5 separate regions of the Homo sapiens genome follow, and all the other regions are linked to region 1. Evidence: fine-mapped expression QTL. A gene starts in region 1. Each other region holds a variant in brackets. All regions are shown on one strand. Distances are from middle to middle.

Region 1 (6,251 bases):
ACACTCAACTGAAAAAACACTCCACCTAAAAGCAGGAAAGATGGCAATTCTAAATAGCAGCTATTATCCCCGGGTATAAACTATTTTTGTTGTTGGCTTGGGGCTTTGCTGCAGGTATTAATAGTTTAAAAAGAAAAAAAAAAAAAAAACCCTAAGCAAATCTGCCACCTCTGGGAAGTGCCTTTTAAAATGCAAATAGAAAGTGAACTCTCCCCTGATGCCTGGATCTGCCCCCTTCCTTTCCCTTGCTAAGCCTCTGTTTGCAGGAGCTACTCCTGAGGTATGGAAATGGTCTTTGCAACTGAAGGACTTTTCCAACTGAAGCAACAGATGTAGCTAAAGTGGCCGTGCTAGGGTTGTGCAGAGCTGGGCTCAGGGGACAAGAAAGGAGAGACTTGGAGCCAGAGAGACCTGGGTCACATCCTGGCACAGGCCTGCCTTTCTCAGCTATAAGATGAAATAAGAAAACTCCTTTCATTAAGGGAGATTTTGTAAAGTGCCTGGTGCTTAGTAAGTGCTCAAGAAATATTATATTTCAGATTCATTGAGTTAAGTAGGTTTTTGAGGTAGCATCCTTTTTTTTTTTTTTTTTTTTTTTTGAGATGGAGTCTCTAGTTCTGTTGCCCAGGCTGGAGTGCAGTGGTGTGATACTGGCTCACTGCAACCTGTCTCCTGGGTTCAAGCTATTCTCCTGCCTCAGCCTCCCGTGTAGGTGGGATTACAGGTGCATACCACGCCTGGTTAATTTTTGTATTTTCGGTAGAGACGGGGTTCTCACCATGTTGGCCATCCTGGTCTTGAACTTCTGACCCCAAATGATCTGCCTGCCTTGGCCTCCCATAGTGTTGGGATTACAGGCGTGAGCCACTGCGCCCAGCCTTGAGGTAGCATACTTTCTGAAATAAAAAAGTAGATTATGTCCGAAGCAGTTGACCTAAAAACTGCCTTGGACTGACATTTGTTAGGTGGTCTAAGATGTTCTCTTCACGCTTTGCAAAAAAATGAGCTTTTTTGGAGTTTAAATTAAGCATCCCTCTGGTGTGTTTGGTTTTTTAGCCACCAAAAATTTAACAAATTTGATAACCTGTCACGTGTAAGTTCAGAAAGCACTTTGGTCTTAATTGGTGACTTGGGGGTTATTTGGTATAAATATAGGTTGTTTTTCTAAAAATTATTGCCAGTATCCTCCAAATAATTGCCCCTTCAAATGTTTCATCTAAAGGTGACAGCTTGTGGGCAGAACCATGCACAGGAAGTGCCTGCCAGTGGGTGTTAGGAGATGTAGGTGGAGTCTGTGATAGCCAACCAAAAGCTATCCCCTTCTCGCCCAGAAAAGCCACGTGCTTTGCTGGACGCTACTTGAAATCTGAACTCTGCACCTACATATGTAGTAAAATTAGACACTTTTGTCACTTTAATTTTTAGATTATCTCAAGTTTTCACTAGATTTCAATGTGCCACTTGTGCTATGAGTCTTTAAGAAGCTTTAAAAAATAAATGCACACCTGTAGCCTTTTACCATTCAGACAGGTAGATTATATTTACCTGTCATGAGGGACCATGTATGGTTGACAGTTGCAGGTTTGATTAAATCCACTATATTGCACAAATTTTGCTGGAAATAATTTCCTGCCCTGCCAAGAGCTCTATGGTAGTTTGATAATAAACTACTACCCCAGTATTCTTAGGAACTGTGTTACTAAGTCTTTTCTGCCTGATTTGTACTTTATTTCCATAGACCCCTCAGATATGTGAGGAATCAAGCCATAAATGTGCATTTGCTGGACATTATGTACCATGTCATCTCTATGACTACAGATTTCAAGGATAATTTTTACATCTAACAATTTCACTGTAACAGTGACCGATAATGTGAGAAATGTGCTTTTTACAGTGCTGCTGGTGGGTAGACAAGTGCTTGCTGCAGTTGTTTCTGAATCTAGCCAGATGCTGGAGTCGTGAAGCTGTAAGCTCCGCGGGAGCAGGGACCATCTCTCTTTCTTGCACTACAGGCACTCAATAAATACTTGTGGCTGTGAACTGGCGTGTGGCCTTTGTGTGTTTATTTCTGCTAGCTGGCTGCAGGAGCGGGTTGTTGGTGATTTTAAGTCCCAGGCATAGAGAAGTCCTTGAGTTATGGGTTAAGGGGCGTCCATCCAGGAGCACAGTTCCCGTTGGGACTCTGTGGGCTCCGCAGATCTTTCTGGATGGATCCTAGGGCACCTCTTGGTGGAGGGAAGGAGCTGAAGCGTTCTAGGTGATGGTGGTACGCCTTGGTCCTCCTCTGCGTGGTCATGGTCAGGGGCACCTGGAGGCGAGTCGGGAACGATGGCCTTCCTGGCCCGTTCAGTTGGGTTCTGCCGTGACCCCAGGAGGTGAGCAGCTGTCAGGGGCTCGGCCTCCCCGGCTTCATCTGGAGTCATCTAGGCCGCCTTAATTTTAGCTTGTCCTCTCTCCTCCAGGGGAGCACCGCCGTCTCCTCAGCCTTATAAGGTGACAAGTAGGGATGGGTCACACATCACTAAGTTTTAGGTGTGCTCTCTTTAGTTCCATGACTTCAGATTTTGCCAAACAAGTCCACCCTGGCTCAACCTAACAAACACCTCATGTTTTTAAGGAATGTCACCAGGCGCTCCCCCACCGGGGGCTCTTCCCATTGGAGAGCCCTGTCGTGCCAGATCATCCGGATTAAACTGTTCGTGATCCTCTTCCAGCTACTCCCTGAGGTGGGGACCGGGACGGCTGCGCTCCCGGCTCTGCCGTTCCCTGGGCCGCGGCCCGGGCGTCCTGAGGGGAGAGCGCGGACCCACCGTGTGGCGAGCACCGCGCCCGGGGCTGGGCTTCGGTGAGCTGCCCGCTGCGCTCTGCCCTCCCTGGTTTACCATTTCGCTCCTAAGAAACTTCATTTTTTAAAATGAGGCTGTTTTAAGAGTCACAGTGGCCGCAAGTCGGCCGGTTCCCGCCCCCGAGTGCGCTCGGCTGCTGCGGACGGTGGGCGAGGAGCCCGGGGCGGGGATCCGCGCCGCCGCCCCCGAGTCCAGTCCCGGGCCCTGAGGACACGGGCGAGCCGGGGAGGAGCGGGGTCGCCGCGGCAGGTCTGAGGAACCAGGCGGGCTGCCCGAGTCGGAGAGGTTTCTTCCGGCGGAGGCGGCGGGGCCGGGCCGAGACTCCGCAGGGACGCGCCCCCGCCGCCGCCGCCGCCGCTCCCCCGCGCGGCCTGAGGAGGCGCCGCCGCCACTGAGGGAATGCGAGCCCGGCCCGGCGCGCGCGGGCAGCAGCGGCCGCTGGGGTGCGCGGGGCACCGCGGCGCCGCGGCGTAGAGCTGTCCAGCCGGCCCCGGCCGCCCGCCCGGCGCTTCCTTCTCAGCTCGCGGCCGCCTCAGCGAGAGCCGCCCGCCAGCACGTGCGCCGCCGCCGCCCGCCTGCGACGCTCGGGAGCAATGCCCGCCGGGGCTCTGCCGCTCGCCCGGGGCCAGCAGGCGGCGGGGGCGCGCGGGGCGCAGCCGGCCGGGCCGGGGCCGCGGGGCGGGCGCTCCCCGTGAGGCGGCGTGAGGTGGCGGCGGCCCAGCCGGGGCCCCGAAGAGGACAGAGCCCGCGGCCGCGCCGAGCGGGGTGAGTGCGTCCGGGCGGCCGCTCCGCAGGCCCGCGGTGAGTCCCGCAGTGCCGGGCGCTGGCCGGGGACCTGGGGATCTGGGCGGCGGCTCCCAGAGAGGCCCCGGCCCGCCCGCCCGCCGAGCCTCCAGCCCGCCGGGGGCTGGAGGAGGGAGCGGAGACCCGGGCAGGGAGGAGGGTGTGGCGTACGGGAGCCCCGCTCGGGAGACCGCCCGAGCCTGGCCTCAGTGAGTCGCCGGCCCTGGATCCGTGCCCGAAACGCTGATTTCCGAATTTCCGTCGGTCGCGACCGCGTGGGGGACCCCCGCCAGGGACAAGTGTCATAGCGGTCGGGGGGCAGGCGTGGGCAGTGCCGGTGCCAGGGCGAGGAAGGGGCTATCGGGAGGAAGCGGAGGTGAGCCCCCGGCCCGCCTTCTCTGCTTCCCGCCTCCAGCTGAACGTCCCCAGGCCCGGGCCGTGGCCTCTGCTTGTCGGGGGCCCAGGGTTGGGGTGTGGCCCGTCTCCATCCTCAGTGCCCCCTTCGTGTGGTAATGGGGTGCCGGCTCTGTCTTCTTCCCACCCCGAATCCTTTCTTATCCGTGGCAGGGCTGATCGGGGGGCCTTGGGGAGAGGGAAAGTTCAGTGTCCCCCGCCCCAGTGTGCACTGCCTCCCCGCAAGAAATCCCAAACGGCCACTCCAGGTGAACATAGTGCGCGCGGTGCAAATGTCATTTCAAGGCAAGTCCTCCAGGCTTGTCCCCTTTCCACCGACTTGCTCCTGCAGAGACATCCTGCACTCCTCTCCCTCCCACTGAAGTGTGGGCTGGGTGCCTCTCCAAACACCCCGGCCTACCTGCCTCCCCCACCCAGAGTCGGGATTCTTCAAAGGAGACCTCACTGGAACATCTGTCTTTGTCCACAACCAGCTCTCTCCCCGGCCTCCACCTGGGAGTGACCAGAGCTGCTAGGATAGACCCCCCACTTCTGGAGGGAAGGCAGTAAGTGCTCCCCTTCATCTGAATCTCCCCTAACATCCATCCCCCAGACTCCTCTCTGCTCTGAACTCCCACTGCCTGCTATCTGTATCTCCTGTGTAACTCTTATCACCGTCTGCCTTATTTTATAGTTACTTTTCCATCTGCCTTATCTCCCCTGCTGGACGGTGAGCTCCCGGGCTGGAGTTGATTCATCTCTGGTCTCCTGCCCTGGTCAGTACCCTGCGTGGAGTCAGTGTCTCCGTGGAGCAGAAGGCCCCTCCAACGCTTGCCTCTGGGACCATAGCTTGTCTGATTCCTGGACTGTTGCTGTTAAATTACTTTCCTTCCATGAAGGGACTGTATTCTGTGGTTGGAATGGACTTCCAGCCCTCTCCCACTGCAGAGAGAAACACAATGAGTTAGGAAGGGCTGTTTTTCTTGTAAGGAGTGGCTTGCCAAGTGAACAGGACAGTACATCCTCTGCCCTGAAGATGGCCAGGCAAAGACTCCAGATTCTCTGGGTAGTGAGTGTTGAATGGGCCATTCTCTCTCCTGGTCTTCCCCAGCTGCTCAGGCGTGGGAGGCAGCAGGGGAGAGAAGTGGACTGCGGGAGTCGAGAGACTGGGGTTCCAGGCCTGGCTTTTCCCATAACTTGCTACAGGAGCTTAACTAAGTCACTTGGTTTCTCTTGGTTTTGGTTGCACCTTATGGAATCTGAAAGAATTCCTCTGCGTATCTAAGGCCCCCTGGGATCTGGGTCCTGTCTACCTTTTCTGCCTCCTCTCCTACCATTTCATTCATACCCTAAGCTGCAGTCCTCTCAGGCTACCTAGAGGCTTTCAAAGGCATGGTGCTCCCATGCCCTCCCTCTCCCCAGGTGCCTTCAACTCTTCACTGGTTGAGACCCAGTCTTGGCCTTCGCAGGTGGAATTGGTCCCTCTTCTGATTTTCGAACCACCCTAGTCTGATTTGCTTGCCACACAGAATGGCCCTTATCTGTTTACACGTGCCCCCCACTAGACTGTGAGCTCCTGGGCGGTTAGTGCTGTATCACGTTTCTCTGCATCCCCAATGCTTTGCTGCACAGTAAGGTACTTAGGAAAATAGTGAGAGGGTTGGCCTAGATCACCACTGAGAGCCCTTCTTGTCCAGAGTTGATTGCTTATACATTCTCTGTTATGGGGACCCGTTGCCTTCCTCCGTGTCTAGAGGCCTGTTTTAACACCAAGCAGATAGATGCTCTCCTAACCAGCCCATCTAGTTAAAGTCTTTCCAACTTGGTCTTCGAGAAGACCAGTCATAGAGGATGTGCAGTTATCTGTAGAGATTAGCAGAGGAAACGTCTGGTACTTTGAGATCACTGCCTTGCTGTTTTTGGAAAAAATGCCAGGGCCGTGTGCTCTTTAATGTAAGCGTAGTGGTATTGCTCCAGTGTCTTTGGCCATGGGCAGGAGGAGCCACTGCTTATGACCGCAGAGTCAATCCAAAATGAGCCATTGTACGCCAGTTCTCAACTTCGCTTAGATGAGATCAATCCCTTTGCAGATAGTCACCCTGAAAGCTGCTTAACAGGACTCCCTGCCTCCAAACACAGATGCGGCTAAGTGGTCTTTGCACAGCTTCTCTGTAGGTCATTTGGTTGATGTTTATTAAGCTTTTACTGGTACCCTGGAATGTTATCAAA
Region 2 (6,251 bases), 31 kb after region 1:
CAGTGCTGTAGCAGGCATCTCAATAAGTAGGTTTTCATGCAAATATACTCTCATGTCTGTAGAATAAATTTCCAGAAGTAGAATTGCTGGGTCAAGGAGTGTTTTTCTTTTATTTTTGTTAGCAATTGCTAAATTGCTCTCCATAAAGGTAGTACCAATTTACACTCCCACTTACAATGTGTGAGTGCGAGGCAGTGGTTTTCAACCTCAAAACCCCAGGCAAGGAAGAGCTTTTAAGTAAAATAAAAATCTGGAGAAAACTCCTTCTGTGTGAGAGCCTTTTCTACCGCAAAGGGCAGGCTGTAGGGTAGTTCCTGGCATAGCCAGTTAAGACTGTTCATTCCCATTAGCTGCCAGCTTGCACACGACTGAGGGGCTCTTGGGTTTTTGGATTCCTGTAGTCAGGTTGTGGTCTGGAAGATATGTTCCTGGTAAAGGGTGGGGGCAGCAGCTACCTTGCCCCTTCTCTGTCAGCTTGTTTACCACCGAGTATCTGAGAAACACCAGAAGCTAACCTTCAGGGAGGTTATGTTTTTGGGGGAGCTCAGATGTGACCAGGAGGCCTATCAACAGGCTTGCGACTTGGATTTCCCAGATCTGTAAGTTGACGTCATTTCTTTCTTTCTTCTTTTTTTTGGAGACGGAGCCTTGTTCTGTCACCCAGGTTGGAGTGCAATGACACGATCTTGGCTCACTGCAACCTCCGCCTCCCAGGTTCAAGCGATTCTCCTGCCTCAGCCTCCTGAGTAGCTGGGACTACAGGCGTGTGTCACCACGCCCGGCTAATTTTTGTATTTTAGTAGGGACGGGGTTTCACCATGTTGGCCAGGCTGGTCTCGAACTCCCGACCTCAGACGATCTGCCTGCCTTAGCCTCCTAAAGTGCTGGGATTACAGGCATGAGCCACCGCACCAGGCCAATTGACATCATTTCTAAAGAGATTCCCCAGGGAGCTGGGGGCAGGAGGAATGGAGAGTTAGTATTTGATAGGTACAGAGTTCAGTTTGGGAAGATGAAGAAGTTCTGGAGGTAGATGGCAGTGATGATTGTGCACTTAAAAATGGTTGACGTGTTAGATGGGCATGGCGGTGTGTGCCTGTAGTCCCAACTATAATACTTGTGAGGCTGAGGTGGGAGGATCACTTGAGCCTGGGAGGCAGACGTTGCAGTGAGCCAAGATCATGCCACTGTACTCCAGCCTGGGTGACAGAGCGAAACCCTGTTTCAAAAACAAACAAACAAAAGGTTGACATGGGCTGGGCATGGTAGTCCAAGCCTGTAATCTCAGGGACTCAAGAGGCAGAGGCGGGAGGATTGCTTGAGGCCAGGAGTTAGAGACCACCCTGGACAACATAGACCTTTCCTCTACTAAAAAAAAATTATGTTAAAGTCAGATGTAGTGGTGCGTGCCTGTAGTCCCACCTACTCAGGAGGCTGAGGCAGGAGGTTTGTTTGAGCCAGGAATTCAAGGTTGCAATGAGCTGTAATCATGCCCCTGCACTCCAGCCTGGATGACAGAGTGAGACCCTGTCTCAAAAAACAAATAAAATAAAATAAAAATAAAAAAGTTATTATGGTAATTGTTATGTTATGCGTATTTAACCACAAACACAAAAAAAGGTATAATTCACTGTAGCTATCATCTCATGAACAAAAGGAACACTAAGAAGTAGGAAAGATCTAAGAATAAAGAAACTAAGTGGAGCTTTTTGATTTTTGTTTGTTTGTTTTGACACACGGTCTTGTTCTGTTGCCCAGGCTGGAGGGCATGATCATGTCCTACTGCAGCCTCAAACTCCTGAGTTCAAGAGATCCTTCTATCTCGGCCTCGTAAAGTGTTGGGATCGCAGGTGTGTGCCACCATACCCCACCAAACTGGAGCTCTTTGAACAGCTTGGCCCATTAGCCATGTTCTCATTTCTCCTTGAACCGGTGAGAGCTTGGCCAGGCCTGGCGCTGACCTGCTCACTGGGGTTTGGGAGTCAGCAGAGAGGCCTCTGAGGGCTGGAGCCAGAGTCAGCTCCCCAGAGAAGGAGCCTGGGCTGGGCCTGCAGCAGCTGTGTGTTCTGAGAAGATTCTATTCTCTAACTTGGGAGACCTGGGGCTGTCTCATTTCTCTGTGTTTAAACAAGAAGTGTGTCTCTGGCCTGCTGCCGGATGTTTTGGAGGCTGGTTCAAGTGAAGCACCCAGTGATCTGGGTGTGGTCTTCGTTATGCTTTTCCATTTTCCCCAGGGGCTCAGATAACTTTTGCAAAAAGAGCAGGTGAGCAGAGCAGATGTTTGTTTAGAATGACATGGTGGCTCAGAGTAGGTGCTCAGAGAGGTTGTCCCTGCTGGGGCTGTGGTGTCTGACCAGCAGGGAGGAGCTTTGCAGAGGTATTGTGTGGCCTCTGCACAGCCATCCTGCCCTAAGGTGCTAGGTGTTGTACCAGCAAAGGTCATCATCCCAGACTGTAATTACTCTCAGGAAACATGTGCCACTACATCTCAGTGCCTTTAGAGGATGTGGATGTGAGCTCACTCTCACTGGCCAGGGTGTGACTGACAGTGAATTAGCTTTATGCCACATCTGGCTGAGGGCTCTGACTCTTCCATGATCCACTCTCCATATGAGAGGTCTGTGGTCATCACTCTACTTGCAGAGAGAAAGGCACTAGTCCTATAGAAGACCAAGGAACTCCTATGGCACTCTTGACAAGGAGGCTGCTGCCCTGGGCCAGTGCCTCCCAGCCAACCTGTGACTATTAGACCAGAATGCTGCTTAGACACCTGTTGTCTTACCCCTCCTTTCACAGCCAAAACACAGATTCCAGGAGGTGAGGGGCCGTCGAAGCTCACAGCCAGTTGGAGTCAAAACTGGCTCTTGAACCCAGTCCGTGAACTCAGGTCCTGAATGCTCTGGTTGGGGCATTTTAAATCTTAGAGGGTGTTAGTTATAAGGTGACCTTAAATCTGCGGGTTCATATTTGACAAAACCAAAGCCAGGCCTTTGCTGCAGGTGTGCCCTCAGAAAGCCCTTGTCGGCTATGCAGCAAAACCCCGGCAGGCCATACAGGCACCTGTGATGAGTTTCCCTTTGACTCACTGGTTGTCAAGTAGGTAACACGACTTCACCATACTCACAGGGCAGTATGGTTGCTGAGCTGACACAGCCTCCTCACGTGGGTGGCAAGCGTATGCTTCCCATTAAGAAAATTGCTACTTTTGAACGGGCTCCCAACAGAACTTTTTCTTGCTTACTAAAATTAAGAAAATAATAATAAAACAAGCCACTCAACACCCCAAACTCAAAAAAAAAAAAAGAAAGAAAAGAAAAAGAAGAAATATTTAGCATTGACCCAGAAAAAAAGCCTCTGTATTCAGCCTGATATTAGTACTCATGGAGCCACATGGATGGAACGAAGAAATTTTCATTTAGGTGTGATTAAGATCACATCCTCAGCCAGGCGCGGTGGCTCACGCCTGTAATCCCAGCACTTTGGGAGGCCGAGGCGGGCGGATCACGAGGTCAGGAGATCAAGACCATCCTGGCCAACACGGTGAAACCCTGTCTCTACTAAAAAATACAAAAAATTAGCCAGGCGTGGTGGC[G/A]GGTGCCTGTAGTCCCAGCTATTTGGGAGGCTGAGGCAGGAGAATGTTGTGAAGCTGGGAGGCGGAGCTTGCAGTGAGCCAAGATGGTTCCACTGCACTCCAGCCTGGGTGACAGAGCAAGACTCTGTCTCAAAAAAAAAAAAAAAAAAAATCACCATCCTCTATGCTTCTAGATAGAGCACAGCCTTTAGTTGTGCTACCTAATCCTTGTCCCTACCTCCCGAGCATGACAAAGCTTAGGCAGAAGCTGCTTCAAACACAAATGAACTGTGCTGAATTTTCCTCTGAGCATTCTCAGCAGTCCCAGGAGATCATTGGAGAAATCCCCCAGGTGGCCACAGAATCAGAGCTGTCTTGCTGCGTTAAGTCTTGTTGGATCACTTGAGTCCTGAAGAGGCCCTTGGTAAAGGGAATAGTTAGGCTATTGTCATCAACGCTGAGCCCAGATACATCTGGGAGTGGGAGCTGGAGATCTCTGCCCCTGACCTGCAGGTGACTAAAGCTGACAGTGGACACAGGCCACACGGACACAGCCGAGTGACACTGTTTCACGTCCCTGCAGCCTGGCCTCCATCAGCACTAAGGCACAGTATTTGCGGAAGGGCCATGTGTTCGACAATACTTACCATGTCCAGTAGCCAGATGGTCTAAACAACCCATCAGTGGTATGGTATGTAAATATTTTCCATCATTATCATGGTGCTGCCGTGTTGACATTAACGAGGATGAAGAATTACTCTGAGGAGCTCTCCGTTAAGAGCCAGTCAGGCCGCAGGCGGGGCTGCAAAGCTGTCCGTACACCCTGGAGGCTGACAGCTTTCCAGGCTAGCTTGGTTTCCTCTTGCTTCCTCCTCCCAGGCACAAATTCCCTCACACACTGGCCCCGTGGACATTCCCCTCAGAACTCTTCCCAAGCACAATGTCTGTTTCTCATCATGAACTAATGTTTTCCACTATTGGGAAGAGCTTTGTGACCCAGCATATTTCCCTCTTTGCTTTGCCTACCAGGAAGCACACAGCTAAGATTTTACTCATTTGCTTTTAGATTGTTCTCAATTTAGAGCCTTGATAGAGATTTTCTCCCTCCTGTTTGGTTGCTTTCTTTCTTTGCTCATCTCATGTTTGGTGGGAAAATGTGGTGAGCCTATGTTGTAAGGTTTTTGGAAGCAGGCAGTATGGATAGAGCTTGAGCAGGTTCCCATCATGATCGCAGAGTACAGAACTGGTCTGTATCCAATCTCCCTGAACTGTCACCTAGACTGGTAGTTCTAAGAAGGCTAAGATTAGACCTCAGCCTAATTCTCCTGTGTATCTCCTACATATCTGACAATTAGTATCAATTTGGTGAATGTATTAGTTAAGTAATGCTAACTGCTAGACAATTCTCTAGTCTCAGTGGCTTATCACAATAAAGGCTTATCCCCACTCTTGTCTTAGTTGAATTGCATGCTCTGTGAGTGGCCTCCATGTGGTGAATTGGGGACCCAGGATCCTTTCACACTGTGGCTCTCCCATCCCTTGGGGCTCCCCTGGAGTTCTCCAGTGAATCTGTGCAGTCAGCTGGCTGGTAAGCAGAGAAAGAGGGAGCATAGGAGATTGCATGGGGCATTCTGGGGGCCAGGCTTTGAAGTGGTGGACCTCCCCTACTCATATAACTAGTCCCGTAGCCTCACCTAGAGTCCAGGGGGCTAAACATATGATTTAGGGAGAGGAAATTGGACCATGCCAGAGTCTGTCATAGTGAGATATTGAACAATGAATGAACAAATCCATGAAGGGCACAGAGAGCAGAGCAGGGCTCCAGGGGCACACGTCTGAGGAGCCCAGTGAGCACTTCTGTCTGCCTTGCAAACCTAGATGCAAGTCATTGGACTTGATGCAGGGCTTTGGATTACAGGTCAGTATTCCCTTCTGTCCAAATCATAGGATTGTAGAATGTTGGAGCTGAACTGAGAACCCTTTCAGAGGTCATGAAGCCCAGCCTCCTCACTCTACAGATGGGGAAACAGAGGCCCAGTGAGCCGAGCTGACTTACCCAGAGTCAGCAGCCAGAACTCTGGTCTCAATCCCATGCCAATGATCACTTCACTGCACTCAGGGAATCCCATCCATATCTCTGTCCACAGTGTGCAAACCCCTGCTCTGCACAGATAGAGAGTCGTGTAATTAAGTGACAGCTTGAGTTGATCATCTGATGGCCAGCTTACTCCGTAGGATCACTGGAGAAATTCCCCAGCCTCACGACCGCTGTTTGAAACTCAGCACCGGCTTCATTTCAGCATTCACTCCATTGGGATATTGGGAGTGGAAGACTACTCTCTTCCTAAGACTCATTTAAGCACTAACGTCTCTCAGCAACTCTCATATGTGAGGATACAAAAGGTCTTCATGAGTCTTATGATGGAAGTAGAACTTCCTGCAAACCCGCTAGAGAGCTTGGCCACCATCAGTTACCTATTGCTGCTTAACAGAGTACGTCCAAACATAGTGATGCAAAATGCCATTTTATTTATTTGCTCACAGTGTGGCAATTTGGGCAGGGCCCAGTGGTAAGGTTAGCTCATCCCTGTGCCACTGGTGTCAGCTGGAACAACTTGACTACTTGGGGTGGGGGACCCATTGACAAGGTGGCTGGCTGCACTCCTGTGGCTGGTGAGAT
Region 3 (5,000 bases), 850 kb after region 1:
GGTCATATAGTTTAAGATTAATGGAAACTATACAGAGCATTCGTTTCTTTTTTAAGAGACAGAGTCTCACTTTGTAGCCTGGGCTGGAGAGCAGTGGCACTATCATAGCTCACTGCAGCCTCAACCTCCTGGGCTCAAGGGATCCTTCAGCCTCAGGCTCCCCAGTAGCTGGGACTATAGGTATAGTCTACCCCTATTTTCTTTTCATAGGGAATTCTAAAAATAATGTTGATTCTTCTATAGAAATAGTCACCTTAGGTAGTCACTTTTGATATGTCTGATTTATCATTTCCAAACCTCACATGTGTTCCACCTTGTAAAGATAGCAAATACAGTGAGCTATCACTATGGGAACAGAGCTGATTCTCCCCCTGGCTATTTGTAGAATGAGGTTACAGTTTGCTTATGGAAACCGGACAGGGATTAAATGACTCAATAACTGTATTTCATGAACAGTTTTTCCTGACAGAGGTTATAGCAGATGTATTATACAAAAAAATTGGGGTTAGCATCTAAATTGATCATGAATAGTCACCTGCCATTTAAATGAGCCTGAATTCCCAGACATGAATGCTTAGAAAGGGAAAGCTATTTTTAGCTTATTGTGTATTAGTTTGGAAAAATGGTGGTTATCAGCCATCATAATTTTAATCTGGGCTCAGGGGACTTCTGGGCAACTAGGGCTGATTGAAGCTGGATCACAGACTCTGTCTCCCTTCAGTACCCAATGCTATGAACACAGTTTTTCTGTATTAAAAAATGTGTCCAGCAGAAGCCAACAAAGCCAGTCAACTTCATGCTATAAACTTTTAAATTGGCACCCAAGGCTGGACGTGGAGGCTCACGCCTGTAATCCCAGCCCTTTAGGAGGCTGAGGCAGACAGATCACCTGAGGTCAGGAGTTCGAGACTAGCTGAGAAACATGGTGAAACCCCATCTCTAATAACAAATACAAAAATTAGCCGGGCATGGTGGTGCATGCCTGTAATTCTGGCTACTCGGGAGACTGAGGCAGGAGAATCACTTGAACCCGGGAGGCAGAGGTTGCAGTTAGTCGAGATCGTACCACTGGACTCCAGCCTGGGCGACAGAGCAAGACTCCGTCTCAAAAAATAAAAAGTAAATTGGCAACCAAGAAAGGAAACAAAATTGTGGTTTGACTCTGACACTTTGTCCCCAGTGGTAAGTGGAAAGGACGGTGAACAGCAAAATCCTGAGAATTTGTACTTGAATTCTCTCCATCCCTGTGCCCAGTCTAGTTTGGAAAAAATTAGACTGAAGAAGTGAGTAGACAGCCTGGGAAAAGTAAAGGAAAAATTTCTGAGGCTCAATGCCCCTTTGCACCACCGCAGGATTTTACCAACGGTGGGAAAAACTGCCAGTGGTCATTTTCTGTAGCTAGTCCAGCCAACAAACTGCAGCTGACAGGCACAGGGCACTGTGGGTATTTTTCTCAAGTGATAATAAGTCCGCAGTAGGCAGTCCGGGCGGGTACCCCCTCAGGAACGTCTGCACGGAGCTGGCCCTTCCTTCCTGCTTGCTGCTCTGCTAGGCGTGTAGTTCTTGTCCGTCTGATCCCCGGTTGGCTATTGTACCTCAAGCATCGCAGAGCTTTCTGGATGGAATCAGGGGGAGGACAAGGCAGGGAAATGCAAAGGGCTTCTCACATGGCTCTGTCTTCTAATTTGGGGAAGAAAGTTCACATTTCTATGATCGTATCACATAACCACCTCCAATCACAGGAGAGGCTGTGTTCCAGTCTCTAGGAAGGGAAGGTAGCAGAAGCAGTAGGAGCACTGTGGAAAGAGCTGACTGGGGATGCGTGCCCCAAGGCTGAGGATGTTCTCCTGTGGGAATGAGATTACCTGTGTTCAGGTAGAGTGAGTGATGTGCATAGAACACTGAAGAAAAATCTCAGGAAAGAGATCACCAACGGAGTCTATGTGTAGCCT[C/T]AACTATCCCAACCTTGACTCTATCCAGAAACCTCTGGCTACAGAAATGTGTCAATTACAGTGCTTAACTTTTAGCTGTAACGTGGGGTTAAAGATAAAGGCCTCAGATAAGGTAGGAAGGGTGTTGGGGGAAACTCACGGTATATGTGAGCCAAGGGAAGGTCTAGGTAGAGCCATCGAGAATAAGATGAAGTGTACACATTCTGCACCCTAAGAGGGAAAAGAGAAAGAACGGAACATCAAGAGCCAGAGAGAGACAGGAATTCAGGCCAAGAGAAGCTGTTACCCAGGGAAAATAGTGCTTTGTGTTATGTAAAACTCAAGTTATTTGAATAAAACAAAACAACTGTTCAAAGAGAAGATGATAAAATGACACAAGTTTAACAGGGAGATTGAAGAATTAAGGAAACAAATTGAAGACCAAACCACACCAGATCAAGACTACTAAATAAATCATAAACAGGAAGCAGCCTTATAAGCATTTCTTAAAATATAAAGGAAAGGGCCAGATGCAGTGGCTCATGCCTGTAATCCCAGCAATTTGGGAGGCCAAGCCAGGAGACTGTTTGAGCTTAGGAGTTCAAGACCAGCCTGGGCAACATAGCAAGACCCTGTCTCAAAAATGTATCTATATTTAGGCTGGGCACGGTGGCTCAAGCCTGTAATTCTAGGACTGTGTGAGGCCGAGGTGGGCAGATCACTTGAGGTCAGGAGTTTGAAACCAGCCTGGCTAACATGGCGAAACCCTGTCTCTACTAAAAATACAAAAATTAGCCAGGCGTGGTGGTGCCTGCCTGTAATCCCAGTTACTTGGATACTGACATGGGAGAATAGCTTGAACCCAGGAGGTGGAGGTTGCAGTGAGCCGAGACCACACCACTGCATACCAGCCTGGGGGACAGAGCAAGATTCTGTCTCAAATATATGTGTGTGTGCGTGTGTGTAAGTATTAGGAGATACGATAAGGAAATTTCCCCAAGTAAAGGAAGAACTGAATCCGCAAAAAGAAAAGAGAGTGGGTTGTATGGAAACCCAGTAGGGGGACCCATTGGGAAAAATTGGTCCAAAATAATAGACACCCCAAAAAAAATACCCTGGTGATTACTGAAATTCAACAATACAGAAATAATTCTATGGTGGGCATGGTGGTTCATGCCTGTAATCCCAGCACTGGGAGGCCGAGGCAGGCAAATCACCTGAGGTCAGGAGTTCAAGACCAGCCTCACCAACATGGAGAAACTCCATCTCTACTAAAAAAGAAAAAAAATAGCCAGGCATGGTGGCGCATGCCTGTAATCCCTGCTACTTGGGAGGCTGAGGCAGGAGAATCGCCTGAACCCAGGAGGCAGAGGTTGCGGTGAGCTGAGATAGCGCCATTACACTTCAGCCTGGGCAACAAGAGTGAAACTGTCTCAAAATAATAATAATAATAAAAAATAATAATTCTAAGTGCCCAGGCGGAAAAATCAAATTTCTTATAAAAACTTAAAAAAACCAACCCAACTGCAGATACATTCAATGCAAAAAAAACTCTGCTGCACCACATCCACTGTTCTGAGGGACAGGAAATATGGCCAAGAGCATCGTCTCCAGACAATGACTATTCAGGTGAGACAGCAGGCACATGTTTCCAAACATGAAAGGACTTAGAAGCTGTGGTGTTTGTGAGTCCTTCTGAAAAGGAGCCACTTGATGATAAATTTGAGCCAAGCAAGACATGAATCAAAATAAAGGCCTTAGCAAAAGAGAAGCGGACACAAGGACTGGTCATGAGCGTTAAATCCAAGTAAACAGAGAGCTAAGCACACAGCTGTGGGGTTTATGGGCACATACTAATGTTGTGGGGTTCTTTGTTATTTTGAGACAGAGTCTGATTCTGTCGCCCAGGCTGGAGTGCAGTGCTGCAGTCTCGGCTCACTGCAACCTCCGCCTCCCGGGTTCAAGTGATTCTCCTGCCTCAGCCTCCTGAGTACCTGGAAATATAGGCATGCGCTACCACGCCCAGCTAATTTTTGTATTTTTAGTAGAGATGGGGTTTCGCCATATTGGCCAGGCTTGTCTCAAAATCCTGACCTCCTGAAGGTCAGGACTCGCCTCGGCCTCCCAAAGTACTGGGATTATAGGCATGAGCCGCCGCGCCCGACCCAGACTAAGTTTTTAATATTTCATTTGGAAATTGTTTCAAACTTTGTGAAAAGTTGTAAGAATAGAACAAATAATGCTCATATATTCTACTATTTTTATATAAACAGTGCAGTCATGAAATTCAGGGAGTTTAACCTCGATACAACAGTATTACCTAACGTACAGACCCTATTCCTGTTCAGGCAGTTGTCCCAGTAACGTCCTTTACAGCATTGTTTTTTTAATTCAGGATTCAGTCCAAGATCATGCATTCTTTTCACTGAGTTGTCGTGTCTCTTTAGTCATCTTTAATCTGGAACGATTCCTCTGTTTTTGTCTTTCATGACATTGACATTTTTTATGAGAACAGGGCCAGTTAGTTAAGCTGCATAAACTCTCTTATTTTGAGTTTGTCTGATGCTTCTTCCTGATGATATTCAGGTTATGCATTTTTAGTAGGAAGACTATATAAGTGATACTGTGTCCTGCCAGGAGGCATGTGATGTTCCTTTGTCCCATTATTGGTGATGTTAATTTTGATCATTTGGTGAATGCAAGTGTAAAACATTTGCAAGGTAAAAAGAAAAAGGAAAAAAAGTAGAAAAAAATATAGAGAGAATGTGACTAACAAAATTTGAGGGGTAGGACTGAAAGAAAGTGGAAGTGTACAAACTTCTTCATCTTTTATATCACAGAGATGTTCAATACGGGCGGCTACTCAGGAGGCTGAGGCAGGAAAATCACTTGAACCCAGGAGGCGGAGGTTGCAGTGAGCTGAGATCGCGCCACTGCACTCCAGCCTGGGTGACAGAGCGAGACCGTCTCAAAACAAAAAAAGAATTAATTTATACCTAAGAAAATGAAATAAACCTCTTACATTTTAAGAACATATTTTACTTAAATTTTACAAAACAAATGTATGAA
Region 4 (6,251 bases), 44 kb after region 1:
AGTTAGACACTTGCTTCCTGAATCGTCCTGGGCTGGGTCCCTTTGTAAAATGGAGACACCTTTAGTCAGATGTCCCCTGTTCAATCCTCTTGGTCCATCGGCATTGTGGGTCTCCCAGTTGGATTGGTGTGGAGTGATCAGAGTCCAGGTGTCTCACCTCCTCTCCCATTGTGCTTCTCCCTGCAGGATGCTGGCACGTGTGTCCTGGTCCTCAACAACCTTCTGTGAGCCTAGGGACCCATTTCTCCTCCTTTGACAGGGACATCAGTGGAGCCTTCTCAGACCCACAGGTAAGGCCGTCCACCTGTGCAGTAGCACCCTACTTCCCAGAGCTGAGGCCCTGCAGGCCACCCTGGCCTTTGGAGTTTGAGGGTACGGAGACTTTATTGCTGTTTCCCTTTTCCCCTAAAAACCGGACTATTGTTGGGCGCAGTGGCTCACACCTGTAATCCCAGCACTTTGGGAGGCTAAGGCAGGAGGATCACTGGAGGCCAGGATTTCAAGACAGCCTCGGCAACATAGTGAGACTGCATATCTCTGAAAAAAAAAATTAACTGGGTGAGGTGCCACATGCCTATAGTCCCAGCTACTGGGGAGGCTGATGTAGGACGATCACTTGAGCCCAGGAGTTCGAGGCTGCAGTAAGCCATGGTCGCACTACTTCACTCCAGCCTGAGTAACACAGTGAGACCCCGTCTCTTAAAAAGACACTATAAACCTGACTTTATCTGATTAATGTGGGGTAGATTGTATTTATTGATTACGCTTTTGCAAATATTGACTTCTTTTCACTAAATACGAAAGACCGATGTTCTGCCTCTGGTAGCTTTCGATTCCAAATAGGATAAAAACTGCTTGGGTCAGCCTTTGAGGCCCCAACGGCTGCTATTCTCCTGTTTATAGAGCACCCCAGAGTGGCTCTTTTCTGTTTGCTCTTGAGGCTTAGCCTGGCCTGCTCTACCCTTAGTACATGGAAGAGGACAGGCAGGAGTTATGCTTCTTCTGTGCCTTGGCTGGGAAGCTCAGGCTCTGGCTACTCGCTGGCTTTGGCAGAGAGCAGAGGCTGGGCTGCTGCCTTGCTCAGCTGCCCGCAAGTCATGGTCAGTGGCCCAGAAACAAGCATGAGTGTGGTTTTTAATGCACCATCCCTCTGGATGTACAGTGAGAAGCCAAGGCTGAGTGGAGGGTGGGCCTGAGCCTCTGTCTTGAGTCTCAGGGAGTGCCAGGTCTAGAGATTGAATGGCCCAGGGAGTAGCAGTCTCTCCCCTCCCACCCCCAGCTGGCAGCAGGAGCCCCTGGCCTCCCAAGCTTCTTTCCATTTCGTATTTCTTTGTCTCAGGCACAATCCCTGGCCTTGGCCCCATTTTCCATGCCAAGGCCTTTGTTGGGTGGAACAGGAGGTAAAGTGATTTTTCCTTCTTTTTTTCCTAAATGTTGATGAACCCTTCTCCTGTTCACTCATTGGCTAGTTTCAGCTTTGGAGGCACGGAGGATGGATGTTCCATCAAGGGAAGCTAGCAAAGCTGAGGTGAGGATGCTGGTGGGGGTAGGTTTAATGTACCCAGCCCCTGCTGCATGGGGCTAAGTCCCACAGTAACCATGAGCAGTGCCTGTTAGGGTCCCTTTTTACACAGGAAGCCGAGGCTCAGAGATGGCAGATATCAGCTCCAGGTTGCACAGCTAGTCAGTGGTGGGATTGGGATTGGACCCCGAGTCTAGACCTGGAAGCACATGGCATGGTTTTTCAAATTTGGCCTGTGACTCACAGGGCCCTTGGTTCAGCCCAGGCTCAACTGTTACTTGCTGTCTGATCTCGGGTAAGTCCCTTCCCTTCTCCGGGTGCCCTCATCCTTGCTGGGAAGATAGGGCACGTTGTGATGGGGCCTCTTAAGTTGCCTCTGTGGCTCCGTAGTTCCAGGCTGGCACCGTGGACTGTTATCTTCTCTAATTGCTCATTCTTTTCAGTTGCTGTGAAAAGGCCTCCAAGTGCTAAGAAGAGAGAGTGCTATGTTGTATTTTTTGTTTTTCTGTTTTGTTTTAATTCACTTTCCAAGGTGTCCCAGCTACTGGGAGTGGATGTAGGGGAGGGCACATAGTAACACTCAGCCCTGACTTGCAGCTTCTCCAGGGGTCACTCGGGTTCTGCGGGGTTGGGGCCTCGTGGTTGTCCTGTTGCCAAAGGTCTTGGCTGCCAAGTCGAGGCAGGGCCCGGTGAGAGCTCTTCTGCCCTGCATGGCCTGAGCACTGACATTGCTCTGAGGGACGCTGCTTCAACACAGCCTTGGTCTCCTGTCTCCTTTCTTACAGGAAGGAGGTTCTATTCCTTCTTAACAACTGCATTCCAGAGTGCAGTGGCTTTGCAGAGACCATGGCCTTGCAGCTCACCTCATCCGAAGGTCTTCACTTAGACCTAAAATGTCTTCAGGAATTGTTCTGCTCCACTCATTTGTCCATAAAGTATTTATTGTTACTTAGTTTGCACCAGGGACCATTCCAGTTGCCAGAGACGCCACTGTGAACAAAACAGACAGGCATCCCTGCCCGCGTCTAGTTTATATGCTGGTACATTCTCTGCGCTTTGCTTATGCAGTTCCAGCATCCTGAAATTCCCTCTTCCCACCTCTACCTGTCAGGTTCCTGTTTCACCTTCCAAGCCCATTTCAAACAGCTCCTTTCCTCTAAATTTCTTTGCAAGGCCTGGGTCCGCATTAGCCTCTCCTTCCTCCCTCTGTGCTGTCACGGCATACTGCTTGGACCTCAGAATTCTTGGCATCATTTTCCCTGAAATATTTCAGTAAGTGTCTGTGTCTGCTGTTGACCTGGGAACCTTGTAATGTGGGAGACTTGCCTTTGGGTGCCATCCTTTCCCCCCAGATCCTGGACTAGAGAGCTGGTACCACCTGCTTTTCCCAAAACCCTCCCCTAGAAAATGGCAGGCCCCATGTGAGGATGATTAGGGTTGCCCCCTCCATGCCTCTGCACCCTGCTTGGGAGTTTGTGGCATAGTGACCACCGGGCCCTGGTAGCGAGAGTCATGGGGTGGAGGGAGGCCACACTCCCTGGGGTTCGCTAAGAACGAGATCTTTCCTTCTCCTCTCTCCTCCACAAGGGACTGAGGAAGGAAAGGGCTCAAGGACCAGGGTTTATTTTTAGAAAAGCTCCTTGCTGTGGAGGAATCCAGAGCCCTTCCTTCCAGAAGGTGGGGGTGGCAGGTGGTGGGTGGGGTAGCTGGGGTTGTGTCTCCTACTGCCTGGCTGTCTTTCACAGTAGGGGTCTGCCTTAAAGAGGAGGGTCCCAGCCAAGGAGAATATTTGCCCTTAGCCCTCACAGTTGAAGATGTTTGCCATTCGGCATTGGTGAGCAGAGCTTCTGGCATTGCCATGAGCTTCAGTGTCCCTTGGGCAAGAGCTCAGCGGGGAGGGTCCTGGGCCCAGGCAGTG[G/A]CTTCCTTCCGGACTCCCCGTGGCTCAGGCAGGGAGGGGCACTTCCTGCCATTGTCTCTGTGACAGGCCTCAAAAGGTCACTGTCTCCTGAGGAGAAAGAGAGCTCATGACATGGGCAGGGCCTCAGACCACAGCAGCAATGACACAGACTTTCCAGGGCACGTCCCCACCTCCCCATGCTGTACCCCCATCCCCACCTCCAGCCCCTTGGATGAAGTCCCATCCCAGGTGAAGAAGGGACTTATCTCCATCCGTAGCAGCAGCAGAGCCCTACCTGCAGCGAGGGCCTTGCTTCCTAGTCCCTCCTCTCAGGCAGCCCTAGTCCCACATGGGAATGCAGGCCTGTCCGTCCCTGTGAGGTTTAGGTCTGTGATAAGTCTCGCATGTTAGAAGGCTGCCCAGAGAGCCCAGAGCATGGGGAGGTTATGGAGAGGAAGTAGAGGGCTGAGTGCCCTCATGCCCTGGAGCAAAGATGCTGCCCTGAAGTCCACAGAGAGCTCCTCCTCAGCTCCTTTGCTGTCCCCACAGAGCTTGGTAGAGATCTGGGCACAATCTGATGACCCATGTCATGCCCTGGCCAGTTCTGTCACCTGTGCCCCTCCTGACTGCTCCCATCTACATTTTGTTTATTGATATGGTTCTTTGACACACACCTGACGCTGCTCAGTACGCAGGGCTTTAGCCAGAAATTGCTGGCTCTTCTCAGTCTCCTCTTCTTCCTGTTCCCCGGAGCTCTGGGGACTGACCCCTGCATTTGCCTTGTTTGCTCTGATGCAGCATGTCTTCCTGAGAATGTACTTTCTTTTCTTCCTGTTTTTTTTTTTAAAGGAATTATTTACTTATTTTAGAGATGGAGTCTTGCTCTGCCACCCAGGCTGGAGTGCAGTGGTGTGATCATGGCTCACTGCAGCCTTGAATTCCTGGGCTTAAGCAGTCCTCCCACCTCAGCCTCCTGAGTAGCTGGGACTACAGGTGCACACCACCACACCTGGCCCAGAATGTATTTTACTTTCAACAAGGTGGCAGAAGCCTGCATTCCTCTGGCTTGTGTCGAATTGTGCTTCAGAAGGATGTCTTCTGGCTGCCGTGTTGAGAGCAGGCTATCTGGGGTGAAGAGAAGAAGCAGGGGGCCTGTGGCAAGACGATTGTTTCTGGGCGATGCTTTTGGTCACTTGTTGAGGTTTGCGCAGGCATACCATGCTTGCAGGGGGATGGGCATGGGTCTGTTTCACTTGTGCTCTTCAGGACAGGCAGGGCCAGGAAGGAAGCTGGCCTGGCCTACCTGAGGGCATGTGAGGCCGGGTGCCCTGCTGTCTTGGTCAGTGGTGGTCTGGGGCTGGGGGTTTCTCTACATCTCTGCCTGCAGGTTCTCAGCATGGGAAACTCTTTCTCACCACCTTTCTTTTCCTTCTTCCTCTCGTTTCTGCCTTCCCTTGGCTCTAGTACAGAGCCCCTGTCTTCGGTTCATTTCCAGTACTTCTCCATGGTGGGTATCCAGTGCACTCACATTGATGACCTCATCCCACCTGCAGGGAGGCAGCTGGAGGCATGACGGCTCAGCACTCCAGGTGCCTGGAGGCATTCCCGTATGCGCTGAGCCCTCATGCCTCCCGGTAACCAGGTGTCGTCAGCAGGAGCTTTCTGGATCTGTGTCCCCTGTGTCACTTCCTTTCTTTGTTTCTTCACACACTTCCTGAGATGTGAACCCTGCCTGGGACAATCGCTTTTGTTCCTGGAGACAGTGTACAGAGCTTGGAATTCTCTGAGGGGTTCCTGAGATGGCGCCATTCAAGCCAGGGGGTTGAATAGCTTGACTCTTCATTTCAGCAGCACGATTGACCCCTCAGTGGATCAGCAGCGATTCATTCCACACGTATTTAGTGAGTACCTACTATTCTAGGAGCTGGGCATAAAGACGTGATAAAATGTTAAAAACTTCTGGCCCTCCTGGGGCTTGTATTCTAGTGGGGGTAGACACTCGATAGAAAATAGTCAGTAAAACCTGTAAGCACATCAGATGGTGATCAGAGTTGCAGAAGCAGGGGAAAGGAAGGCCTCCCAAGTTGGGGACATTTAGGCGAAGACCTGAAGGAGGTGAGGAGTGAGCCAGGATGGTAGCTCAGGGAGAAAGGCCCTGAGGCAGGAGCTTGTCCAGGATGTTCAGGAAACTGGAGTGAGTGAATGAGGGGAAGAGAAGCAGGGGAGGAGGTCAGAGAATATTGAGGGCCCCGTTAGATCAGGGCTTTGCAGGCTGTATCAGGACTTTGGCCCTGACTCTGAGTGACCTGAAGCTTCGGAAATGTTTGAGCAGTAGAGGGTCAGGATCCGAATTGTGCTTTAAAAGGATGGTTTCTGGCTATGGTGATGAGAGCAGGCTGGATGGGAGGAAGGGAGGAAGCTGGGTGATTGTGGGGAAACAATTGCAATAGGGAGTTTCATGTGTGTCCGTGTGAAGAGACCACCAAACAGGCTTTGTGTGAGCAATAAAGCTTTTAATCACCTGGGTGCAGGCGGGCTGAATCAGAAAAGAGAGTCAGCGAAGGGAGATAGGGGTGGGGCTGTTTTATAAGATTTGGGTAGGTAAAGGAAAATTACAGTCAAAGGGGGTTTGTTCTCTGGCGGGCAGGAGTGGGGGTCGCAAGGTGCTCAGTGGGGGAGCTTTTTGAGCCAGGATGAGCCAGGAAAAGGACTTTCACAAGGTAATGTCATCACTTAAGGCAAGGACCGGCCATTTTCACTTCTTTTGTGGTGGAATGTCATCAGTTAAGGCAAGGACCGGCCATTTATACTTCTTTTGTGGTGGAATGTCAT
Region 5 (6,251 bases), 79 kb after region 1:
TCACCTCATTGGCTGGCTTTCAGGCGGTGAGTGGTTCTTTCTTTAATTTGACAGGAGCGCTGGGATTCAGGGAAGGGCGTGGTGGGAAGCCCTGTGGTTCAGACAGACCCCACGAAGCCAGTGAAGCTCCCAGGAGAAAGTCTGATTTATTTTTCCCTGGCCTGGCTTGCAGCATGGTGGAATCCACCACCCAGGCTGTGCTGGGCAGGACAGGCCGCTCTGATGCGGGTCAGAGATTCTGGGACTCAGAACATCTGCCTTGGCCCCCGCCCAGCCCGTGCCTAGCTTTGAAAAAGTCTGTTGGTGGTGTTGCATGATGACTTAAACTGCAGGAAGAGAGAAGCTCATGAACATTAAACTCTCCCCCAGTCTCTCTTGTGAGTTTCCTGAACACACACGTACTTATACATGCACATACACGCCTTTGCCCACAAGTGCACATATGCTTGCAGATACACACACACAGCCTCCCCACATGCACACTCACACAAATACATGTGCACATGCCATGCAGGCATGCACATGCAACTCACAAGCTCACACCCACATGCACGCACACACAAATATGTTTTCCCTGCCTGCTAGCAGGGGTGTACCTACCATTTGGCATTCTTCTCATGCTAACATGATCCCATGTAAACGGTTCCCAGGATTGTTAAGATCAGACAGCTGTCCTTTTTATGCATTGCTTTACAGCTCAGTGTCTCACCTGAGTGAGACAACTGTCCCTGTCCACTTCTGGAAAGAGCTGCCTCTGTTCCCTCTTTTCCTCCCTGGTGCTCTGTTGCATGGTCTGGTGTATTACAGGGATTGGCATGTTTGTGTCTGCAGGGGAGCCTCTGGGTGCTGGCTTTCTGTCCAGGGCTTCTGAGGGCCGCCAGCCCAAAGGGAAGGGATTCATCAGAGACTGATAAGCTTAGGGTGTACTGAGCTGTGAGGCCATATGTGTGTGTTTGTGTGTGTGTGTGGGTGGGTGGGTGTATGTGTAGGCATGTGTGTGTCTATGTGAGGTGTGTGATGTGTTTGCATATGCGTGTGTGGTGTGCTCATGTGGGGGGTGTATATGTGAGTGTGTGTTGTGTGCATATGGACATGTGTGTATTTATATGTGCATGTGTGGTATGTTGTGTGTGTGAGGTGTGTGTGCATGTGTGTGGCATGTATATGTGCCTGTGTGTGCCTATGGGGTATGTGAGAGTGTGTGCAGTGAATGTGAGTGTGGCATTTGTATTTGGGCATCTTTAACTTTGCATTCTGCTTCTCCCATTTTCTGCTTCAATTCCCAGAGCAGGGCTCAGCAAACTCCTTAACCTATGTCTGCACTGGGATCTTAAATCCACTTCACAGACACTTTCCCAAGTCTCATCTGATTTAACAGTTTGCAGCCACCCTAGAAGTACTTGGCGTTGCTCCCATTTTACAGATAAGTAGACCGAGTCTCGGAGGGTTGAGTAGCCTGCCTGTGAAGGCAGAACCAGAACTTGGATCCTTGGCTCTTTCACTCCTTCGCTCCCTCCCTCCCTCTGCCTCACTCATTAGTTATACATGCAACCTGCTCTGCACCGGGCATGGCTGCTGGGCTCTTGGCCTGAAGACTATATTCAGCCCTTGTCCTTCAGCGGGTGCTCAGTATGGGAGGAGGCCAAGGAGGTTGGGTGAGGAGAGCTGGGGGGTGCTCACTCTCCCTGCACTCCACGGCCACCCACCTTAGTTGTCTGAGAAGAGAAAAGGAAGGAATTAGAGAGAGGAAGGAGCAGGCAGCCTGGGGATGAGCTGGAGGAGAGCCCCCTGCATCTGCCCTACCACTCACTTGCCCCAGGGCTTCCACCCAGAGTACGAGGCCACTCTACACTGTGGAAAATCCGGGTCACTCTGATCCTGATCCACTGTTATTCTGCTATAGGAGCAGAGTGGCTCCCTTTCTTTTAAAAATTGCTACATCATGTATCATCAGAAAGACAGTCTGCATCGTGGGGTCTATGTGTTTTAGGCTGAGGATTTCAGCATTGGTGGCTCAGGGTAGTAGGAGCAGCACTGCACATGAGGAGATATGTGCCTCAGTTTCTTCATCTGTAACATAGAGATAACACTGTCTACTTCATGTGTCTCACCACAGAGAACAGGTGTGATGTGCTAGGAGATGAACCACCTGTGTAGGCGGTGGCGAATGGTAGGCTGTTGTTAGAGACAAGGCATTCCCATAACTTACTCTTCAATGGGTCAGGAGTGTTTATGCCCAGAGATGCACACAGAGAGCAGGAGGGACACAGATGCAAGGCAGATGGAACAAAAGGGAAGCAATTGCTGCTTTTGGGTAGTGTAGAGGGGAGTTCTTATGTTAGTTTTGCAATTTTTCCGTAGCTTAGAGACTATATGAAAATGAAATATGGAAGAAAAAAGGCTCATCCATTTAAGAGCTCTTCCTAAGAGGTTGAAAGTATACCGATGTAACAAATAGCAGAGGGTTTGTACCTTAACGACCCATGAGAAGCCAAGTGAATAAAACGGAAGCTCCATCCTCATGGAAGCTGGAGACAGCTGGCCATCCCTGAAGGGGATAGGGAGCTCTGGGGAGGGGGGCAGGCGATGGAATCACACCAGCCAAACTCTCAAGAGGCAGGGCTCTCCCTAAACACCAGGCCTCGGAAGTCAGGCTCCTTCCCTGATCCCTGTTGGGGCTCCGGATTCTGGCTTGGATGACTTCCCCAGGGCCCTTGCCTGGTGGCCACAGCCTCTTCTTCCAGAGCTCCAGGTGAGGGAAAGTTGTATCTTATGATGGTTTCCTGACTGGGTGCTGGTTTTATTTGGTCCAACGTTCAGTTGCAGGTTTACCCAGTAGGTCAGCTTTGTGGCCCTCTCTGCTGCCTTCGGCATCCTGAAAGCCCCTTTCAGATGAATGTTTAACCTCAAAACCTTGAGCAGCTGTTGACAGGGAGCACTAGGCCTGGAGTCTGAGAGTCTGGGGTCCCAGCTCTGCCCCAGTGGATCTCTCTGAGACCTGACTGTCTCCCTGACAAAGCCAAGTTTGGTGGGAATGAATGAATGAGGGACTTGAACATGCTCTGTCACTCTGCAAATGGTAGGTGTGTCTTGGGAGAAGACAGGAGAGGGACAATTGCCAGCCTTAACTTGCTGTCTACTTTGTGCCTCACTTTCCCCACCTTGTTGCCATAGTGAGAGGAATTTTCCTCATCAAGTCCCCATCACCTTTCTCTAAGCAAGACTATGCTCAGGGGCTGGAGGGCAGGGGAGAATGCAAGTTAGAAGACCTTGTCCCTGTCCCCTGTCTACCATCAGCCTGATTATAAGATCTTGGAGAATTCCTTTGACCTCTCGGAGCCTCAGTTTCCTGGTGTGCACAGCAGAGTTAGCGATGGATGCCCTCAGGAGAATGGGAAGGACAAATGGATGGTGTGTGCCCAGCACTTTGTTTCATGCCAGCGTCCTCACTTTTCCTGTCACCCTGTGCCCTTGTAAAGCACTTCACAGCTTTCTAGGCGTGGGCACACCATTATCACAGCCTGTGGCTGTGAACAGGCTTTGTCAAGCCTGTGCAGACAGAGAATGGGGA[A/C]TGGGTAAATTTAAAACACTCCTTCCGCCTGACTTCATTTGCCTGCTGGGCCTGTGCTAATTGCATGGCTGAAGTCCCCTTTCCAGGACTCTAGATTCCTGAGATGGAAAGGATCGGGACTGGGCTGCTCTAGGACCTTCCTAAGCTGGTAGAAGAGCAAAACTTGGTAGTCATATAGGCTCGGGTTTTGAGTCCTGGCTGTGTGACCCACAGAAGCTGCTTAATCCCATTGCACCTCAGTTTCCTATTGTGTGGAATGGGAGTGATGGTCCCCCCATGGGCGTTGTGTGAGAATTCAAGATTCTGTGCTTCTTGCCTGCCTCGTCGCAGGAGCGTGTGAAGCGGATGATCGTCTTGTGGGGCTCTCCTCCAGTGTCAGATTGCTCTGTACCAGAGGCTGTCCTAGGATCAGGGCCAGGCCAACCGCTGCTTTTCATGCTCCCAAATGTTTGGAGAGCCAGTGCGGTGTCTTAGCCAGCAGAGCTTTCTGTCAGGAGGTGTGATCATCGAGCCGTTTGTACCCTGCCAGCCACCTGAACCCAGAGCCACTCCCTGGACTGAGCTTGCCCTCAGGGGAAGGTGGGCAGCAGAGTTATCCAGCCTGCGGGTCTCTCTCTGGCTGTCCTCCACCCTAGGAAGCACAACACGTGGTCAGCAGTGTGGCTTATGGGGAGCACAGGGAAAAGATGAGCAGCTCCATATTTCATGGCTGAAACTTGGATATGGCTGCAGTGCCAAGGAGGGGCCTCCCCTGGACCCAGAAAGAGCAGGGGCTGGAAGTTATGCTTGAGACACCAGCTGGCAGCTTCAACTTAGAGAAGAGCCGGCATGCCTGTCCCCCTCTGCTGCCTGCAGCCCTCTGCCCACCCTACTCAAGAGTTCAGCCTGTTGCTCCCTCCCAAGCAACAGTGGACACTCGAGGATCCCAGGTCGGACCTGCTAGATGGGGACACTGAGCCAGGCAGACCCAGGGCAGCTTTCCTGAGTTCCTTGGAATCACACTGAGCTGGGCCAGCTGGATAGGCTCCTGGAGGCAGAACGGAGTTCAACTCCCTCTCTCTGCTGGCCTCCTTCCCTGCATCCCCCTGTTTGCAGCTAGGAAGGGCTGACCTGGTGACTCGGTGACATCCCTTCCATGTGGCCCCAACATGAGTCACACGTCACGGCATTCTCTGAGTTGGGCAGATGCGCGAAGGGGCATGTTGATGTGGGGCCCTTAGGGCTGCCCCCACAACTAGCCTGGTCTGAAGAACCGGTTGGTCCTGTGGGGTTATTTAGAAGGCATGGGGGGCAGGCCTAAGCTCCCCAGCTCCTCCTTGGAAGAGGCCTGGCCTGTGTAAGCTGTTACTGCCTGGCTTGAGGAAGTGGCACACCGAGGAGCATCCTGTCTCATAGGGAGCCCATCCCATGGGCAGCTCTGCTCCTCAGGGCAGCCAGTGGAGCTGGGAGGGGGGACATCGCCTGCTTCCCAGACTCAGCGTGTGTCATGTTCCTCTGGGCTGCCCGGCCTGGGTGTTCTAGGAGGCCTCTGTCCAGAGGAGCAGACCTTCCCTGATGCCCACACCAACATGAATGCCTGCCATGAGGCCCTGAGGGTGCTGATGACAGCAGCTGTGACAGCGGTGCCATTGCCCACACGGTCCTGGGGCCCTTGGATACGGTCCAGCTCAAACCCCTTCACTATAGCTGGGACACTAAGGCCCACACAGGCCAGGGACCTGCTTCAGCTCCCAGGCCCTTGTTACCACCACTTGATGTGATCTTCTGTTTGCAGTCTGATAGCTTTCAGGGCCCAGTCCCTGCTCCCCACAGTGGACATGGGCTTAGGGCATGATTTAAGCCCCAAGAGCAGTGAAGAGAGCTGGGCTAGGGGCCAGGGCATGGCGACCTCTTGCCCCAGGCTCAAGGCTAGTAGAACCTCTGGACTCGTCTGTCCCTGGGCTGTATCTTATCAGCAGACTCTCCTGGCTGGGTCTTGCCAACCTGGGGACTCTTAGCTCCTTGCCAGTCACTCAGTGAGCCCCTGCTTGTCATATGAGCACCGGGTGCAGAGCCCCACTGCTGGGCAGCTTCCTGAGTGCATTGCATCTGGCTTTTCACTGTCACCTTGGGAAACGGTCAGGGCAGATGACCAGAATCTGTTCCAGGAAGGGGCCTGGAAGTTGGGTCACCTGCCCAAGGTCAGACAACTGTTCTGGGACAGAGTTTGGAATTAAAATCTTTTATCTAACAAATATTTGCTGGGTACCTACCTTTATTAAGCAACTGCTGTGGCCGAGCCCTGGGGACACAACTTTGAACAAGGCTCGGGCCCTGAGCTCCAAGGCAAACATGTGGCTACAGTGCAGTCTGATAAATGCCAAAAGGAAAGTGGGCGCAAGGTGCCCGGGGTGCTGACTCGGCCCACGGGGCTTGGGAAGGCTTCCAGGGGGCCTGGAAGGCGAGGAAGCTTCACCTGGGGGAAGGGCTCTTTGAGCACAGAGGACTCTGGCCATCTGATTCCAGGCCTATAGGGACCCCAGCAAGCCCAGGAGAGGTGTGGACTCTGGCCTTTTCTTTGCTGCGTGGCCTGCAGCAATCCCTGTCCTGTCTCCAGTCTCTCCATCTGTCTGCAGGGGAGATTGTACCAGGCCCCGTGTTTCATTCTCTGGAGGGCTTCCTGATAACCTCAGGAGATGTG

The links. PIP is the estimated chance that this variant, and not a neighbour inherited with it, causes the effect. A credible set is the group of variants that fine-mapping cannot tell apart.
Region 2: its variant is the best candidate, but not a certain one, in a credible set for the expression of PITPNM2 in whole blood (INTERVAL, PIP 0.65).
Region 3: its variant is the best candidate, but not a certain one, in a credible set for the expression of PITPNM2 in fibroblasts (GTEx, PIP 0.77).
Region 4: its variant is the best candidate, but not a certain one, in a credible set for the expression of PITPNM2 in monocytes (TOPMed, PIP 0.68).
Region 5: its variant is the best candidate, but not a certain one, in a credible set for the expression of PITPNM2 in whole blood (TOPMed, PIP 0.77).

What each region holds. Positions count from the first base shown.
Region 1 is chr12:123,148,113-123,154,363 of GRCh38, reverse strand. It overlaps PITPNM2 (phosphatidylinositol transfer protein membrane associated 2), which reads left to right and starts at 3,274. Exons shown (of 26, transcript NM_020845.3): 1 at 3,274-3,611. It overlaps MPHOSPH9 (M-phase phosphoprotein 9), which reads left to right. Exons shown (of 24, transcript NM_022782.4): 24 at 1-149. RefSeq lists silencers at 2,891-3,090, 3,111-3,370, 3,391-3,530, 3,631-3,720.
Region 2 is chr12:123,116,848-123,123,098 of GRCh38, reverse strand. The region is part of intron 1 of PITPNM2 (phosphatidylinositol transfer protein membrane associated 2); the gene reads left to right. Among named protein-coding and RNA genes, the nearest start is that of PITPNM2, 31 kb to the left of the region's middle. RefSeq lists enhancers at 3,046-3,859, 3,860-4,673. The variant G/A (reference allele first, on the strand shown) is at 3,593.
Region 3 is chr12:122,300,486-122,305,485 of GRCh38, reverse strand. All of the region lies in intron 20 of CLIP1 (CAP-Gly domain containing linker protein 1), which reads left to right. Among named protein-coding and RNA genes, the nearest start is that of VPS33A, 36 kb to the right of the region's middle. The variant C/T (reference allele first, on the strand shown) is at 1,953.
Region 4 is chr12:123,104,424-123,110,674 of GRCh38, reverse strand. It overlaps PITPNM2 (phosphatidylinositol transfer protein membrane associated 2), which reads left to right. Exons shown (of 26, transcript NM_020845.3): 2 at 187-290. Among named protein-coding and RNA genes, the nearest start is that of PITPNM2-AS1, 26 kb to the right of the region's middle. RefSeq lists enhancers at 2,752-3,492, 3,331-3,540, 4,976-5,718, 5,719-6,251. The variant G/A (reference allele first, on the strand shown) is at 3,441.
Region 5 is chr12:123,069,349-123,075,599 of GRCh38, reverse strand. The region is part of intron 2 of PITPNM2 (phosphatidylinositol transfer protein membrane associated 2); the gene reads left to right. Among named protein-coding and RNA genes, the nearest start is that of PITPNM2-AS1, 8.9 kb to the left of the region's middle. RefSeq lists an enhancer at 4,409-5,281. The variant A/C (reference allele first, on the strand shown) is at 3,572.